Linked DNA regions of Homo sapiens: region 1 is linked to region 2. A link means that fine-mapping ties the variant in region 2 to the expression of a gene that starts in the linked region. Tissue or cell type: whole blood. Region 2 holds a variant in brackets; the other region holds the start of a gene. All regions are shown on one strand. Distances are from middle to middle.

Region 1 (8,105 bases), 250 kb after region 2:
ATAACAAGGTCTTAGTGATAATAGTGTCCGTAAAGATGTCATCAGAATTGGTAAAGTCAAGCATGCTGCAAATATACCCTTTGGATTAGAAAAGAGCACAATTTTCTTTTTTTGTTTTGTTCTGTTTTAAGAAGTGGCATACTGCTCTTTCTCCCTTTGGATAATTTCTTTTAAGCCCATCAAAGGAAAAAACAAACACAATTCAAACAAACACTGTCAAGTGATTCAAGATCAAATATTTACAATAATCAAATGGAGTATCAGATTTTTTTTTCCAAACTGATACCACAAATACAGAGCTGAAATCTCTCTTTGGCTCCTCTATATGCAAAATTGAATTAGTCTTCATTGAAGACAATTATATAGTCAGTTCCAGATGCAAAAGGAAACAGCCTTACAAGGCCCTAAAGAACACATGCTCCTACCCTATCATTTGGTTCTACCCTATGCGCCTGGAAGTCCTCGAATCCCAGTCCCTGCATGGGTAGGCTGTACACATGGGTACAGAGCAAACCTACTGCCTGTATCTATACAGCATGTCCTGTTATTCCAAAGAGAATGGAGCAAATCTCTCTGTTAGTATTAACCAATTCCGCACTTGGTAACCTTGTCTAGTACAGACAGCTGGTGTCATTTTGACACCTGGGGCCACACACAAAGAAAGCAGCCCAGCTGATGCTGCCAAGAGAAACTGCTGAAGGGCCAGACACATTCCAGCAAGGAGGGGTGTGGGGTCTTTCACGTAGATTGCAGAGAGTCCACCTGGTATACATTCTGGTTGGAAGGGGTGGTAAAATACAGCTGCTGTGCTGGAACCCTGTTGTCACATGGGCTGCTGAGTCCCAGCGTCCTCTCGAAGTCCAGCAGCTGACCCATGAAGTTGAAGTTAGGGGATATGTTGGATTTTTTCATTTTGACAATGTCATAGGCATCGTTCATCGACAGATTGAGCTTCTGCATAAGGTAAGCCACAGTCACAGTGACTGAGCGGCTAATGCCAGCCAAGCAATGTACCAAGACACCACAGTTCTTGCCCCGGGCTTCATCTGTGAACACAAAAAGAAAAGCAAGATCTCAGCAGACTGAAAACCACCCTTTGTGAATGATCAGTCTAAAAACTGAACTTGAAAACATAATAATAATAATAGTTGTGTGTGGCAGTTGAGCCCTACAAGCAGCAGAAAATGTATCACTGAAATGAAACATGTACACTGGACACAATTACATATTTCAGATATTTTCTGAAAAGAGAGCTTTTGTATTAAGTTTCTGCCAACAAAAAACTCCTTAATGGGTGCATTCTTTGCCTCGGCATGTGAATACCAGAAACCCTGCAATATGTTCGTGAATGCCTTTTACACAGACAACCAGACTGCAAGGGTCTATTAAATTATGCTCCAAATGTTGTGCAGCTAACAATGGAGGTATTCAGGCATTTTAAAAGAGAGAGGGAAGTCACAGGGGACGGCCCATTAGGAGGAACAGGATGTCGACACGGCCTGAAAATGAGTTCCTTTGTAATAGGAAATGCATTACAATGCCTGGAGATTCACTTCTCCCAGGCTTCCAGCCCACAGTTCTTCCTGCTGGGCTCAGGTTACCCACTGTCTCACTGTTACCAGTATCACCGCATCATTCAACTGGATAACATTCAGCATTCATACTGCTTTCCAACAACTAACTTGATGTCCTAAAATAACTCCTAGATGTTTTTAAATTATAAAGCAATGCTGGAATTCCTGTCTATAGTGAGTACTTCTATCTGACCCTTCCCCTGAGTCCAAAGACTGGGGGGAAAAATCTGTTGTCCGATTATGAACGACTGTCAATGACTGAATTCAAAGATTCAAGAAACAGCGTTTCAAATACACCTGTGATCTGCAGCCATGTCAAAAGGCAGGTTTTCTTCCTTTAGCAAGAAGATAAACCAGAATTAAGGACGCTCTAGGAACATTAGAGACCTGCAGTCAGACAAATTAGCAAGCAGCAAGAACGATTAACAGCTTAAACTCTATGAATGGCTAGGAATTTTGCATTTAAATGTCAGAGCGACGACTATTAATTAGTCTCACCTATGAAAGAAATGGCCTCAGGGAAAAACTGGGACAGGTTTTGGCTCCAGTGATCCGAGATGGGGATTTGCTTGTATTTAAACTCTCCTGCGTTCTCAAAGAGATTCGGCAAATTGGGGGTGACGTTCAAGATGTACTTGATGCCGAATTCCTCCAACACGTCCAAGTTGGTGGAGTCTTTGGCACAGCCCAAGTAGAGGAAGGGCAAGATCTCCACTGGGAAGGAAGGCTGGCTGTTGGACAGCGGACTACCATCCGAGTCTGTTGCACTATTGGGGTCTCGGTCAAGGTCAGACTCGATGTCCGAGGAAGAGTCAGAGCTGATCCGCAGGCCCCCGAGCCCCAGCACTGGCAACGGCGGCGAGCTGCTGCTACACGAGCCGTCTAGATTGGTCTCGCAATGCAGGGAGAACTCGGCTTGGAACTTACTGAAGCCACCTGCCAGAACGAGAAAAGCAATCATCTAACCTGAGAAGCCGTAGTAGTTTTCACAGCTTGTAAGAACCGCAGCCCGGCGCAAGAAACACCACAAGCATCCTACGAACCCCCTACATACAGAACCATCTATAAGAGAAACACACTTTAAATGTGCACCATCGGGAATGGAACGAACGGGCCCGCCTCGCCAGGGAACCCTTATTCGCTTGAATCCGGAAATAGACAAAATGGCAACTTTTTGGAATATTTTGAGAGCTAAGATGTGCCAATTTGCATCCCCAACAATCTCTCCCGTCCTGCAAATCTTAATTCAAAATCGAACGATAGAAAACAGGGTGATGGTGGAGGATGTTCTGGCTAAGAAGGCGCAGAACCCGTTAGAAAGAAACCGCCGGTACCCGCAGCCGGAAGCGAGTGGATTCTGAGCCGGCCCGGTTCTCTGGTGCGGAACGCGCGGTTCGCGGCCCCTACCTCGCCGGCTGCCGGTCCCTAGGCGGGCAGCGCGGCTCCGAAGCTCCAGCTGAGCGGAGCAGAGGTATTTTCAATCCACGCGCCCCGCCCGCAGCCCTGCGCCCCTAGCCCTGCCCCGCGCGCGGAGTTCCCTGGGCGCGTACCTTCCAGGTAGAACGCCCGGCAGCCCTCGTCCTTGAGCTTCTTGAGCAGCAGCCCGAGCACCGACTCGCCGCCCGTATTCTCGTTCCAGTCGCTGCTGCTCTCGTCGTAGAGCACCACTGTGTCGGTGCCACAGCGCCGGGTGAAGCGGTCCCGGTCCTCGCCGCGCGTGAAGAGCGCGCGCACCGGCAGGTTACCCTTCTGCAGGCGCCGCAGCATGATGCCCGGGATGGCCACGTTGATGGCCGACTCGATGTGCGACGACTCGTATAGCTCCTGCGGCCGGCAGTCCATCAGCAGCAGCCGCTCGTTGCCCAGCTCCAGCTGCTCGTTGAGCCACGCCACCGTCTTGCTGATCGCCATTTCCGACGCGAAGGGCACGGGTCTGAGCGTATCTATCATGGGGGTCGAGCTGCGGGAGAGGGCGGGGTGCCTACCAGACGCCCCTCGGGGCAGGCATAGGCCGAGCGCACCGCGCGCGAAGCTGCCGCTCTCGGAGCGGGGTTTAATTCCGCCTCGCCTTACCCAAGCCGAGGCTAGCGGTTGGGGCAGACGAGACAGAAGTAAAGCCGGAGGTTCTCTCTGCACCCAGCTGCAGCCGCTGGCTCTTAGTGTCAATGAATCTCTCTCAATGAAGCTGCCCAGATAGTTTTTGTTCCTCCCCAGTGAATGAAATCCAATTAATTCGGACTCCGTGCTACTGAGAGGGGAGGAAAAAAAGTCTAGCGGCTTCTAATCCCTCCCTCCAAGGCTGCACCTCAAATCTACCCGGGCGTCTTTCTCCCCGGATTATTTAAGACTCGATTTGCTATCTCTTGGACTCAGCCTCGCACACCCCCTGCGCGAGGCAGCTCCTCAATGGATACAAACAGCGAGCGTCTCAATGGATACATTCTCCGGGCCAGCCAATGAGCGTGCTGCGGAAGGGGCTGTTGCCGTGGGGACGGGCCGGCTGGAACAGGTTGTGTTGATGAATTGTTAATGAGTTTGTCATTCACAAAAACGGAAAGGAATTTCCGCTCCGGATAAGCCCCAGTGCAAACAAGCTGCAACAGCGGGCTCGGCGGGAGGAAGGAGAAAGAAGGGGAGGCGGCAGCGGAGGAGGAGCAGGGCACATAAACCAGGGCACTTCAGTTGTCTCATGTTTCCTTCTGTTGAGAGTTCACACTTCGCGTCGGAACTTTTGCGCACCAATGGCGCAATTAGCATGCACAAAAGCCCTTGTTCGCGACGCTTGCGTTCGCGAGCTAGCTTTAGGAAAACTTGTGCTGACTTTTCGTTCTTTGTATTCCCTTCAAACTCATTTGGACCCAAGTTCGCCTTAACCCTCCCCTCCCCCAACCCCCCTTCTTTAGGCGGTGTGTGGCATTTGTTTGCCACTTTTAAAGGCCCAGCTCTGTTTGCTCTGATGTTCTTTTAGCCGAGGCTGTGTTGGGGCTGGTGAACTGACTGGGCTTTAGTGACCGATGAGGTGTTAAATGCTAATCCAACATATTTCGAAACAAACCAGGATTTTGTTGAAACATTTTAAAGCAAACAAACAAACGTCTGGTTGTGCAGAAAATCAGAAGAAAACCTTTTTTCTTAAAATAACATTTTATTTTCATTAAAACAATGTAGAGTGCAGAAACAAACTCTTAGGTCAGTCCAGTGCTTTTACTGTATTCCGCTCCGGCGGCGTGGGGAGTTACAAGCCATTGTTCGGGGGAATCTATATCTCTCCCCCCGCCCCACCACCACCATCGCCTGCTGGGAGGTCGCGCTGGTTAATGATTTCTGGGCAAGGAGCTCGGCTTCTGACGGGGGAGCCGGTCTGGCGGGGCTGCCTGAGCGAGGTGTGCTGGGACGCGCCGGGCCGGGCCAGCAGTCCCCGCCATGGGCGAGGCGTGAGGAAGTCCTCCCGCAAGACCTGCAGGCTGCGGGGGCTCGGCAGGGGGGCTCGACGATTGGTTACAGTTGGCAGGGAGGCATGTCAGAGGGGGCCTCCCCAGCCCTCTCCTGCCGCCGCCTCCTCCCTTTGTCCAGCGCCGGGCACTCCGGGGAGCACCAGCCGCGCCTGCGCGCTGCGCTCCCTGCCACCGCCCCGCCGTCCCCGTCTCCCCGCTTGGGCACGGGGCTGTGCGCGACGCAGTGGACGGGTGCGGGGCTCAGCGAGGGACTCCCGGGTCCATAGAGATCTGGGGAGGGTGGGGGGAGCAAGGACGAGTGCCTGCCGGGACCCCCCTGGCTCCTCGCTCCCAAGGAGTCGAGGGGAACGTCTCTACCGCGCTGCAAAGCCAGCAGGTAACTTTGGGGAGGTGCGGGCCAGGCCAGCGAGCAGCACTCGGCCCAGGCGCCGCGGGGCGGACGGATTGGAAGCCGGATGGAGGCGTGGCCGGGTGGGGGCCGCGGCGGCGGGGAGGCGCGTTCCCGGCGCGCAGAGCTCTATTGTTATATAAAAGTGCCGAAGCCTGCCCCTCCCGAGCGGAAAACCACCTGTGTGCGGCCGGCGCGGCGCGAGAGGGATGCAGCCGGAAGGCGCGGGCCCTAATCCGGCCTTCCCTCCCTAAACCCCGGCGGAAAAGAGGCCGCGCTTTGTCCCACCGCTGCCTGAGAGGCGGAAGCGGGGGCAGCCGTCCGGCGGGGTGCGGCTTTGGGGAGTGTCCCTTGCTGCGCTTTGCGCCTACCGTGAACACCGCGAGGGCGCCTAAGGTCGCGGGGTCTCCCTTCGCCCGACGCCCCGCACCCACGGGCATGCCTGCTAACACCCCCGCTGCAATTTGCATTTTTAGTCACCCGCCTCTTCCCTGGTTTGGGAAATGTAGGCTAAAAAAAGGCGGCTGCGAGGCCTAGGTTGCCAATTTTGGAGCTCTGCTTCAGGCAGGCCGCCCCTGGAGGAGCGTGTTCGACAAAGGTGGGGATTGCCGAGCTCCTCTCCGCACCATTTTTGGGCAGTCCTTGGAACAAAACTCGTATATTTCACTGGGTATCTTCTAGTTTCAGCCGGGGGAGGCCTGCGCTGGAGTTGACTCCCCCTGTCCTCCACGATCTGTCACAGAAGTTCCCACCCCGAGACGTTTCAGTCATTGGGACCTGGGGACAGGGAGGGAAGAGGCAGGATGCCCTTCAGCGGAACTGAGAAGAGCAAACCTGTTGGAGGTTCAGCACAGGACCTCCAACAGAAGAGAAAGGGAGGGAAGTTGGGTTTCTACTTTGCCTGTTTTAATACGCAGCTACTTGAGTATGACTATAGATTCGGGAGGATACATCGAAACTGTAGTTTTACCCATGCTTCTGAACTTTATCGCCAAGGGAATGCCAGTGTTTCCTGGCGCATTGATTAAAGTGGCGTTCTGACTGCTCAGTACTAGAAATGCTGCGAAAAGGGCTTCTGGAGTGGGACGGCCCTCGTTTGCATTATGTCCCCCGCTTCTTCCTAGGTAAGCGCCCTTAGTTAAATCATTTAGCCGTTCTAAGTTGCAGTCTTCCACGTCGGCATAACGAAGATAAAACTATCTGCTTCATAGGGTCCCTGTGACGACAAAATGGGTACGGTGAAACGTCCTAAAGTGGTGGTGGGGTGCTATTAGCCGTTGGAATTAATTTTTCATTCTGAATTGAGGACCTGTAAAAAGGCCTCGGCTTGGGGACACGGTTTGGGCATCCCACAGATGCCCCTTGAGGCTCGCTTGACAGCCCGCCTGGACTCGCTCATCTGCAGCAAAGCCCTCTGAGATACTACCCTAACCGATTTAATCCGTTCCAATTCAGCTGTCAAGTAAAGGGGGTGTTATCGTAGACCAGGATCAAAAATCCTTTAGCACAGTTATCAGAATGGACCCAGCTACATTTCTGATTTCTCCCTACTGGTCACCTTTGGAACACGCTGTTCTCCAGCCACAGCAAACTGATACAACAATGCATATTGGGCACTTAACTGCATGATGGGTACCGTCTTGTTTCTGTGTTTACTTGCATAATTTCGGACAGTCTTCAGAAAAAACATGTAAATTATCCCATTTACAAAGATTAAAGAATTTGCCCAAGGGCACACAGTAGCAACAGAGTGTCAAGACGTGAGGCCAAACCCTTTACAGACTCTTAAGGATGCCCACATGCACGGATTACATAGAGTGTTATGGACACTATATTCACCTCCACGTGGTATTCCCTGCCCACATGTGAAGAATTTCAAGGTCAGCATTTTGAATTTTGACCTCCAGGCTTTCTCCAGCCTCACGTTTTCTGTTGCATCCTCCATGTCAAAGATCAAAAGCGAGGCTGCTTTCCCTGCTCCTTTTACACACCAGTGGTTTTCTTTGCACGCAACCCTTCATCAGTCAAACATTCACTAAATGTTGCATATTTTATCTCTCTTAGAATATGCCCTAGATCCTAATCTTCACAAGTGTCATTGGTTATCTAGTGCGTCAGCACAGCACATAAGCCTAGGTTCAAACCTCTGTCACTCAGTAGTAGTCTGGGCCTCACTTCATTCATTCATTGATGCATTTATTCTAGATTCCAGGAAAGCAGTAGAGAATAAACAGACAACAATAACCTGCCTCACTGAAGTTTACATTCTAATGAGGACAGTCCAATTAACAAAACAAATAATTATATATTAGAAAGTGAAAGCGCTATAGAGAAAAAGCAAGAAAAGGAATTCGGAAGTGTGTAACATTGGGAATATATATTCCTCCCTCAAAGGACTGTGAGGATTAGACACAACTGAGATGACACACGAGAAGTGTAGGGCACAAAGTCGGTATTCAGAAGATGATTTTTAAAATATCACCACTTCATTCCTGCATAAGGAATGCTGTTGGTGGTGATATTGCCATTCCTGTGAGGCACTGAGGAAAAGCTCTCTTAGGAGATAAGGGCTGTAGTAGTTGGAAGAATTACAGGCTTCCTTAATTCCAGAGGCCTCAGTGCCCTTCAGAGGATATCATTCATATGAAGAGGTCTGTATTTAAAAATTGGAGATAGCAGATCATCTGT
Region 2 (8,105 bases):
GGTGTTCATTCATTCAACACATACTTTTCTGAGTGTTCACTTTGTGCAGGGTAATATTCAAGATCCTAGGACTACAATTCTACACAAAATAGACAAAATCTCTGCCCTTGTGGAAATTATATTCCAGTTTCACACATGTGGCCAAGGCAGAGCAGCTTGCAAGGTGGCCTGGACCTGTTGCAATACCTTCTTTTGTTCTGGGCATCACTCAAAACTAGCCACTTTTTGGGTCACCCTGATGGCGTAGCACCATCAAATGAGGTATATACCGTCTCCAAAATCCAAAGTGTTTAATATCTTTTTAGGATGTGGGAGTGACCAGATGCAACAACTTATCCTTTACCTTAGAAGAGATATCTTGGCGTGTCTCACACAATTAGAAGCACAGAAATTTCAATTCAATGGAAGACCCCCAGAATTTTGTGGGATTTATTTTCCACCTTCTGGCAGGCAAATGTCTTACCAATATGGCTAGAGTAATTGTTACTTCATGCTCACCAGGTCGAATCAGCATAATAGTGACGTCCCATGGAAGGGATTTAGATTGCATTTTTGGGTTAGGGTGGGTATTTAATGTTAGGTGTGCTTAATACAGTTCTACGTCAGAGGTGATCCTCAACAAATGTTACTTATTGTTCTGCTCAGAATCCCTCCTGTACATCAGGATCTGACCCAAGCCCAGCAGAGGTGGAGGAAAGCTGCATATGGAATCCTTTCTGTACAAATTGCTCTGGGTTTTCCTTTCCCTATTTACCATCAGAATGTTGCTCACAAAGATGTGAATGAACATTTAACGCTAGACCCCAATAAATATTTCTCAAATTAAAGCACCATTTAATTGCATCTCAGCAGTGCTCCCTTGTGAGCACCCATTAGGCATAATGAATAATTCATAGACTTCCTAGGGTGCATTCTGCTCGTCTGAAGTACAAGAAGAAATAACGAAATAATGAGGCGATTGCTTTTCAGCGCCCTCCAACTCCACTCCACCCCTGCCACTTTGCAATGTGTGGGACGTACCTGCCTGGCTGGGCAAGAAAGGCTGCAGGACAAGCAGGTTGGGGAAAGTGCATGTCATCCTGAGCAGGTTAAGCTTGAGTCTGGACCCATCCCCCAACCCCCACGTTTTCCTAGCATAGGAAGACTATCTGGAGGCCTCTGCCCTCCCCTGACACTTGGCAGCCGCTGCTTCCTGGGCTTCGCAGTGCAGCTGGCTCTCCAGGCACTGGGTAAAACAGAAGTCAGGCTGGGGGTGGCGGGGACTTTCCTAAAGGAATCGCGTGCAAAGGGCTGACAGCATGGCATCCACAGGCTGCAGCAAGTGCCCAAACCCAGAAATCCGACAGCCACAGTGGCAGCCAGAAGGCTCTTTTCTCACAGTGGAACTGCAGGGGGTGGGGGGAGGGGAAATGATAAAAGAATTTTCTTTTTTAATTTTTGCGATTTTTCATCCATCTCAATGCATCAGCTGTTTGGCAGCAGCACAAGTCAGAGACATATGTCCATCGGATTTACTCCTTTTTCACTGCTTCCATTGAAGGCCAAGAAATTCTTCCACTGTGACTTCCTCCCCCATTCCGGAAAGGAAGTCCTTAGAACTTTTGCCTGTAGGACCCCAAATGTCGCAAGCCCTTAGAACAGTGGTCCCTAACCTTTTTAGCACCAGGGACAGGTTTCATGGAAGACAATTTTTCCACTACCGTGGGGAGGGGGGTATGCTCCACCTCAGATCATCAGGCATTAGTTAGACTCTCATAAGGAGGACAACCTTGATCCCTCACATGCACAGTTCACAATAGGGTTCGCGCTCCTATGAGAATCTAATGCCGCTACTGATCTGACAGGAGGCGGAGCTCAGGAGAGCAGCCTGGGAGTTGGGGAGCCCTGCCTTAGAACTTGCCTATAGGACCCCAGATGGAGAACAGGCCATGGATTGTTCCTCTTCACCCCAGACCCTTCCTGCCCCTTCATATTTAATCCATTATAATAGCTATCATTTATACAAGGGCAACTATATGTCTACAAGAATGATTTCACCTAATACCCATGAGATCCATACTGTTATTATTGCCATTTTACAGATCAGAATGCTGAAGCTTACGTAGGTGAGTTTGTCTAAGGCCGCATAGCTAGAAAGCAATGACGCTAGGATCACAAACCGGGAAATCTGAATCCAGAAACAGAACTCTCAAATTCCCATGTTCTCCCCACCTCACCCCTGTTTTGACTGATATCATCTCTTCAATTTGTTTCTTTTTAAATTTCAACCCCAGTTTGTGATTTGACCTAGGCGAATGACAAGCTCTGTATCTTTGTTTGCTATTTAGTAATAAGAATAAAGAATGCATGGGAATCTGTAAGCTTAGTTCTTTGACCCTTTTAAGTTTTCCTTGTTTTTTGAAATTTTTCTTGGAGCTGTATGAAATACGATAGCACAAAAAAAAAACAGTATGGTCTAGATTGTCAAGAAACTCAGCAATATCATATGCAAAAACCAGTGCATCCAGGTACTAGACTGGAATCCTCTGGACTTGAAGTCAGAATGCCTGGATTTTAGTAAGTACTGCCTCTGCTCCCTGCTGTGTGGACGTACCCAGGTAAATCGTTTACCTCGCTGAGCTTAGTTTCCTTATCAATAAAGTGAAGAAAGATGTAATATCTACCTAGCCAGTATCATTGTGAAGATTAAATAGAGTAAGTTGTGTGAGATGCTGTTTGCTATTTAGCCTTCTCTTCTGCCACCTTTATAGTCAGTGCTATGTAACCAAGGGAAAGCAAGGCAGTGGGCGAAGAGAACAAGAAAGATAAAGTTGCTGCTAAGAAAAGAAGCATAATAGCTCTCAGGAGAACCTACTATTTCTCCCTTCCTCTGGGAATCTCCTGGGAAGCCCCCACTATTCCCAGGACCAGCACCAGCCACTCCCAGCTGGCCCTTCCCCCATTCTCAGCTCTCCAGAAGGGCCCTGCTTCAGGATAAGGTCACATTCCAGTTACCCCAATTTCAAAAGTCAGCTCTAAATCATAAACTATCTTCCTCATTTCCTTGACATAGGCAGCCTACCAAATGAGCAAGAGAAAATGCCCACCATCAGTTCATTGGTGACATAAAAAGAGTAAAAATATGTGCTCCCTGATTGGGCAGAAAAAGCTAGGTTGTGGGGTTCTCATGTGTTCCCCTTTCCACCCTAAATCATAATCAGAAATGGAGGCAAACAATGAAATTAAACCTTCATGGGTTGGTTTGTTGCAGGTAGGTTGAACAAAGAAAAGAAAAAAACAAAAGATACTTAAAACTTCTGGAAATGATTATAGCCGAAGAGGATAGATGGCTTTCTCTCAGTTTATCTCTGGGGAACATCTTTGACCTTTGTTTCTTCATTGCCCTCCTTATTCCCCGCAGAAGAGTCATTACGTTGTCCTGAAAATCAATACCGGGTAGGCAGCAGTCTTTACCCTTCCATCCCGCGGCATTCACAACTTGCGTGGCAACCCCTCAGATGCATGTCTCCCCTCTCCCCGCCTCCATTGCTCTTATCCTTCTCTCTCTATTTCATTTTTCTTGCTGTTGCTAATCTCTCCCATGTTATGATTACAGTTTCTGGCTTGTCTCAAATAAGAAGAGATTTCAAGACTTTGTCACATCCTCCATGCCTACATAGGGCTTTCCCAGGTCCTTTTTTGTTGTTGGATATGGATATCTTTTTAAATGGAGGAAGGAAGGAAAAGAAGAAGACAGGCAAATTTGTGGCATTAAACACAAACTGAAGCAGGACAGGGCAGGGCAGGCATGTGGGAGAAAAAGCCTAAGGCCACCTGTTTGGAATAGATTAGTGAGGTTTAAACAAAAACATCCCCAAGCCTCCACTCAACCTCCAGGAAAATGGTGCATTTTCCGATTGCTTACTCCCACGCTTCATTCTGTGAAGGGGAAATAAAGAGAGGATGACTTGAGAGCAGATGGGGGCAAGGCTATCTCAGAGGAAGATCGGGGCTCACGGGGTGGTCCACAGTTTTTTACACAGTTGGAGAGTAGGACAGGAAGCAGCAGCTGCAGCAGCCTGCCTCTGCTGAAAAACTGCCTGATGACCCAGAACTAAAGATTTCATTTTATGGGGCAGTGCCCCACCTTCCTGAGACAGGACATTCATCTACTTTTTCAGGATAGTACCCATGCCATACTGATGGTACTCTTGAGCCGAAAAGGCAACATAAAGAAGCTGACCAAAAACGATTGTAAATTGGCAAATGCAGTTGTATAAAACACATCTTATATAAATATATTTACATGAAAAATAAATCACTTTATTACAAAATAATACAATTAAGGATGTCCTAGAAAAATCTGGAACATTTATATGTTGTATCCATACCTGTAATCACTTCTGCTCCCTTCAGGCATGTGCCTGTGCGC[A/G]CACACACACACACACACTAGCACATACTTAAACTGTCTGGCTATGTGATTTTCTTAAAATTGCTTATCCTGATAATTGATATATTCCAATCATGTCCTCCTGGAGAAAACTATAATCCCTAAGAAGGTCCTTATTAATGAACTTGTAATGCCTGGCTGATGGGGAAGATGGCCACAGTAGGTTATGGTTATGCTGACATTTAGACAGATTGGCTTGGCCTTCAAATCTCATGGTATTGGAACAGATTGTTGGCTGAAGTCTGAATTGATACAAACTACAGTTTTCTGGAGAAGTTTGGTGATATTAAATATCCATTCCCTTTGACCTGATGATTCCAATTTTAGAATGTTTGAGGGTTTTTGTAACAGGAGTGTTTTCAGAATGAAAACTGAAAACAACCTAAATGTGCATCAATAAGAGATTGGTTAAGTAATTATATAAAACATGATATAGATCCACACACATTAACATGGAAAGATGTTCCCAATATATAGCTTAAAGGGAAATGGAGATTACAGATAATATGTACAATATGACTGAAATATATATTATATATAATATGTTATATATATATCATATATTATATATCTTCACATCCTGCTTAGGCATAGGAAAAAGTCTACAACAAAATATTAACAGAGTTATATCTGGATGGTGTGATTATACCTAATACTCTTTTTTTTTTTTTGAGATGGGATTTTGCTCCGTTGCCCAGGCTAGAATGCAGTGATATGATCATAGCTCACTCTAACCTTGAACTCCTAGGCTCCAGGGATCCTCCTGCATCAGCCTTCTGAGTAACTAGGACGACAAATGCATACCTCCACACCTGGCCATTTCTTTTTGTAGAGATGGGGGTCTCCCTGTGTTACCAAAGCTGGTCTTGAACTTCTGACCTCAAGCTATCTTCCTACCATGGACCCCCAGAGTGCTGATATTATAGGTGTGAGCCATTACGCCTGCCCCTACCAGTACCTTTTTCCTTTTTTTTTTTTTTTTTTTGAGATGGAGTTTTGCTCTTGTTGCCCAAGCTGTAGTGCAATGGCACGATCTCAGCTCACTGCAACCTCCGCCTCCCAGGTTCAAGTGATTCTCCTGCCTCAGCCTCCTGAGTAGCTGGGATTATAGGCATGCGCCATCACGCCCGGCAAATTTTTGCATTTTTAGTAGAGACAGGGTTTCACTGTGTTAGCCAGAATGGTCTCGATCTCCTGACCTCATGATCCGCCCGCCTCGCCTCCCAAAGTTCTGGGATTACAGGCATGAGCCACCACGCCCGGCCTCCAGTACTCTTTTTTAATCCAGACGTTTATCTGCATTTTCTGATTACTTTTGCATTAAGAAAGTATTACTCTATATTCAGAAAACATAATAAAGCCATTCTAAACAAATTACACTAGGATGGGCTTCCTTATCTACTCTGCATTGCCGGTCTCACTTCTAAGTACACAAGATCAGTTCATCAAAGGCAGTCAGTCCTTCTGAGGCCAGCTGAGAATGATGTGGAGGGGTTGTTATTCTCCATAATGTGGATCTGCTGTCAAGCAGATCATGCCATATCTGCAGTCAAAGAGACCTCTAAGATGTGTTTTAAATTCTGACTCTTTGGCATTTTGGCAGTACTGTATACTAAGCAGCAAGATGAGGACCAATTAATTCCACAAATTCAACTATGACTAATTTTTAATCAATGAATTGGCTCTTTAACTTGGGCTTTTGGGAAACACAAAGAGGGAGCAATTTATTGAGAGTTGCCCTGAGATCATTTACCGAGATTTTAAGTGTGTATGTCCTCACACATGCACACACATACACACACACACACACATCTCTGTACTATGGTGACATTTAGTATATTCTTGGATGTGTTGTTCTTTTCCAGCAATTTCTGTTATTGCATATCAGGCAGCAATTGAGGCATTCCGAGCTTTTGCCTAGATAATGACTCAACAGAACAAAGCAGCCAATTCTTGACTTTTGAATTTCGAAAATTTTTTTGACACTCACGGCAGACACAATGGCATAAGAGGGAAAAAAATCAATGAAAGAAAAATAGAATCGAAGAAAAACTAAGAAGTTCTTAGTCTGGTCCGTATTTCTGAGAAAACCCGATGTATCTGGCCCTTTCCCCCAGTCTAAGTCAGGACACTGAGAGGACAAAATAAAACCCAAAGGTCAGTTTGGGAGTCGGAGAACAAAAATAGCACATGCCTTGTTTCCCAGGTGAAGTTTGGGATATGGGAGGGTCTACCCCAGCATAGGAAGACAACAGTAGAGTGTCATGGCTGTAATATATGTATAAGCAGATGGGCCTATGGCAGGTTCACAGAGGCACACCCTAGCATCACCCCAGCAACATGGGGTGCAACATGATGCATACACCCCAGCAACACGGCAAGCAGCCAAGAGCAACACACACACATGTGACATTGGGTTGCAATGAGCTCCAAGAAACCTTGCCATTGGAATAAGGGGATACCTGAGTGTCCATTTGCACTGCCGTAACAAAATATCACAAAATGGGTAATTTGTAAACAATAGGAATTTATTTCTTATGGTACTGGAGGCTGAGGAGTCCGAGATCAAGGTGCCAGCTGGTTTGGTATCCAGTGAGGGTTGCTGTCTGCTTCCAAGATGATGCCTTGCTGCTGCATCCCCCAGAGGGACAAACACAAACACTGCTTTCTCATGTGGTAGAAGGGACAGAAAGGCAAAAAGGGGCTGAGCTCACTCCCTCAATCTGTTTTACCTAAGGACACTAATCCCATCCTTGAGGGCAGAGCCCTCATAACCTAATCACATCCCAAAGGCCCCACCTCTTAATACTGTTGCAATGGGGATTAAGTTTCAACATAAATTTTGGAGGGGACATGAATATTCAAACCATAGCAGGGGGCATAGTAACCTTTCCCTGATGCTTTGATATTATTTTTGCCCCCCAAATGTAAATGCAAAATCAAGAAGGAAACAGGAAGAATAAAATAACATATCTACTGAAATTACCTTGAATTTACTAAGCTTAGGTTGCCACCGCTTGCTAAATGAAGAATTTAGTTAGAAATAAATTCAACTCTATTTAATTAGTTTTGAATGGCAAAAACTGCAATTTCTTTTGCACCAATCTAATAGAAAATTAGAAAAATCAATATAAAACTTGTGTTTTTCCTGAGTATTGTACCTGATTTAAATAAGCTAGGGATGCCAACTGAGGGATTCTTCGCCACCTAAGGAATTCTTGGCCACAGCCTGAGCTATATTATTGGCATAACTCTTTCTAATCTTAATGACCAACCCCACTATATTTGTAGAGTCCTTGGCTGGGTACATACTTATCAGCCTAGCTTCACAGTCAAAATAAGCCTCACACAGACCACTGTATCTTTCTGGGCCCTCCCTAAGAACAAGTATCCTTGGATAGGCCCCTTTATCATAATTGCAAGGGCCTGTACATCTGCCCATTATTTGGTATGAAAAAAATGATTTTGGAGTAAAATGCCACTATTCTGAAGGAGTTTTTCTATTTTCTTTTTAAAAACTCTTTCCAATCCCCTGGCTCCACCCAGCATACACACAACACACACATACACACACACACACACTCACACACATTTCTCTCAACATATGTGTTCCCCCAACAAACAGACACAAACATCTTGACCTTTACATCCAAATGTGGTCCCCAGAAAACCAAAA

What was found. PIP is the estimated chance that this variant, and not a neighbour inherited with it, causes the effect.
Region 1: DUSP6 starts here. The variant in region 2 is fine-mapped to the expression of DUSP6 in whole blood (INTERVAL, PIP 0.94).

Annotation. Positions count from the first base shown.
Region 1 is chr12:89,348,516-89,356,620 of GRCh38, forward strand. It overlaps DUSP6 (dual specificity phosphatase 6), which reads right to left and starts at 3,986. Exons shown (of 3, transcript NM_001946.4): 1 at 3,125-3,986; 2 at 2,073-2,510; 3 at 1-1,046. The coding sequence starts at 3,524. The coding sequence ends at 739. POC1B-DUSP6 (POC1B-DUSP6 readthrough) reads right to left here. Exons shown (of 11, transcript NR_189589.1): 10 at 2,073-2,510; 11 at 1-1,046. RefSeq lists enhancers at 1,208-1,842, 2,478-3,112, 6,162-6,211 and a silencer at 4,932-5,241.
Region 2 is chr12:89,097,729-89,105,833 of GRCh38, forward strand. No RefSeq gene overlaps it. Among named protein-coding and RNA genes, the nearest start is that of LINC02458, 82 kb to the left of the region's middle. The variant A/G (reference allele first, on the strand shown) is at 4,412.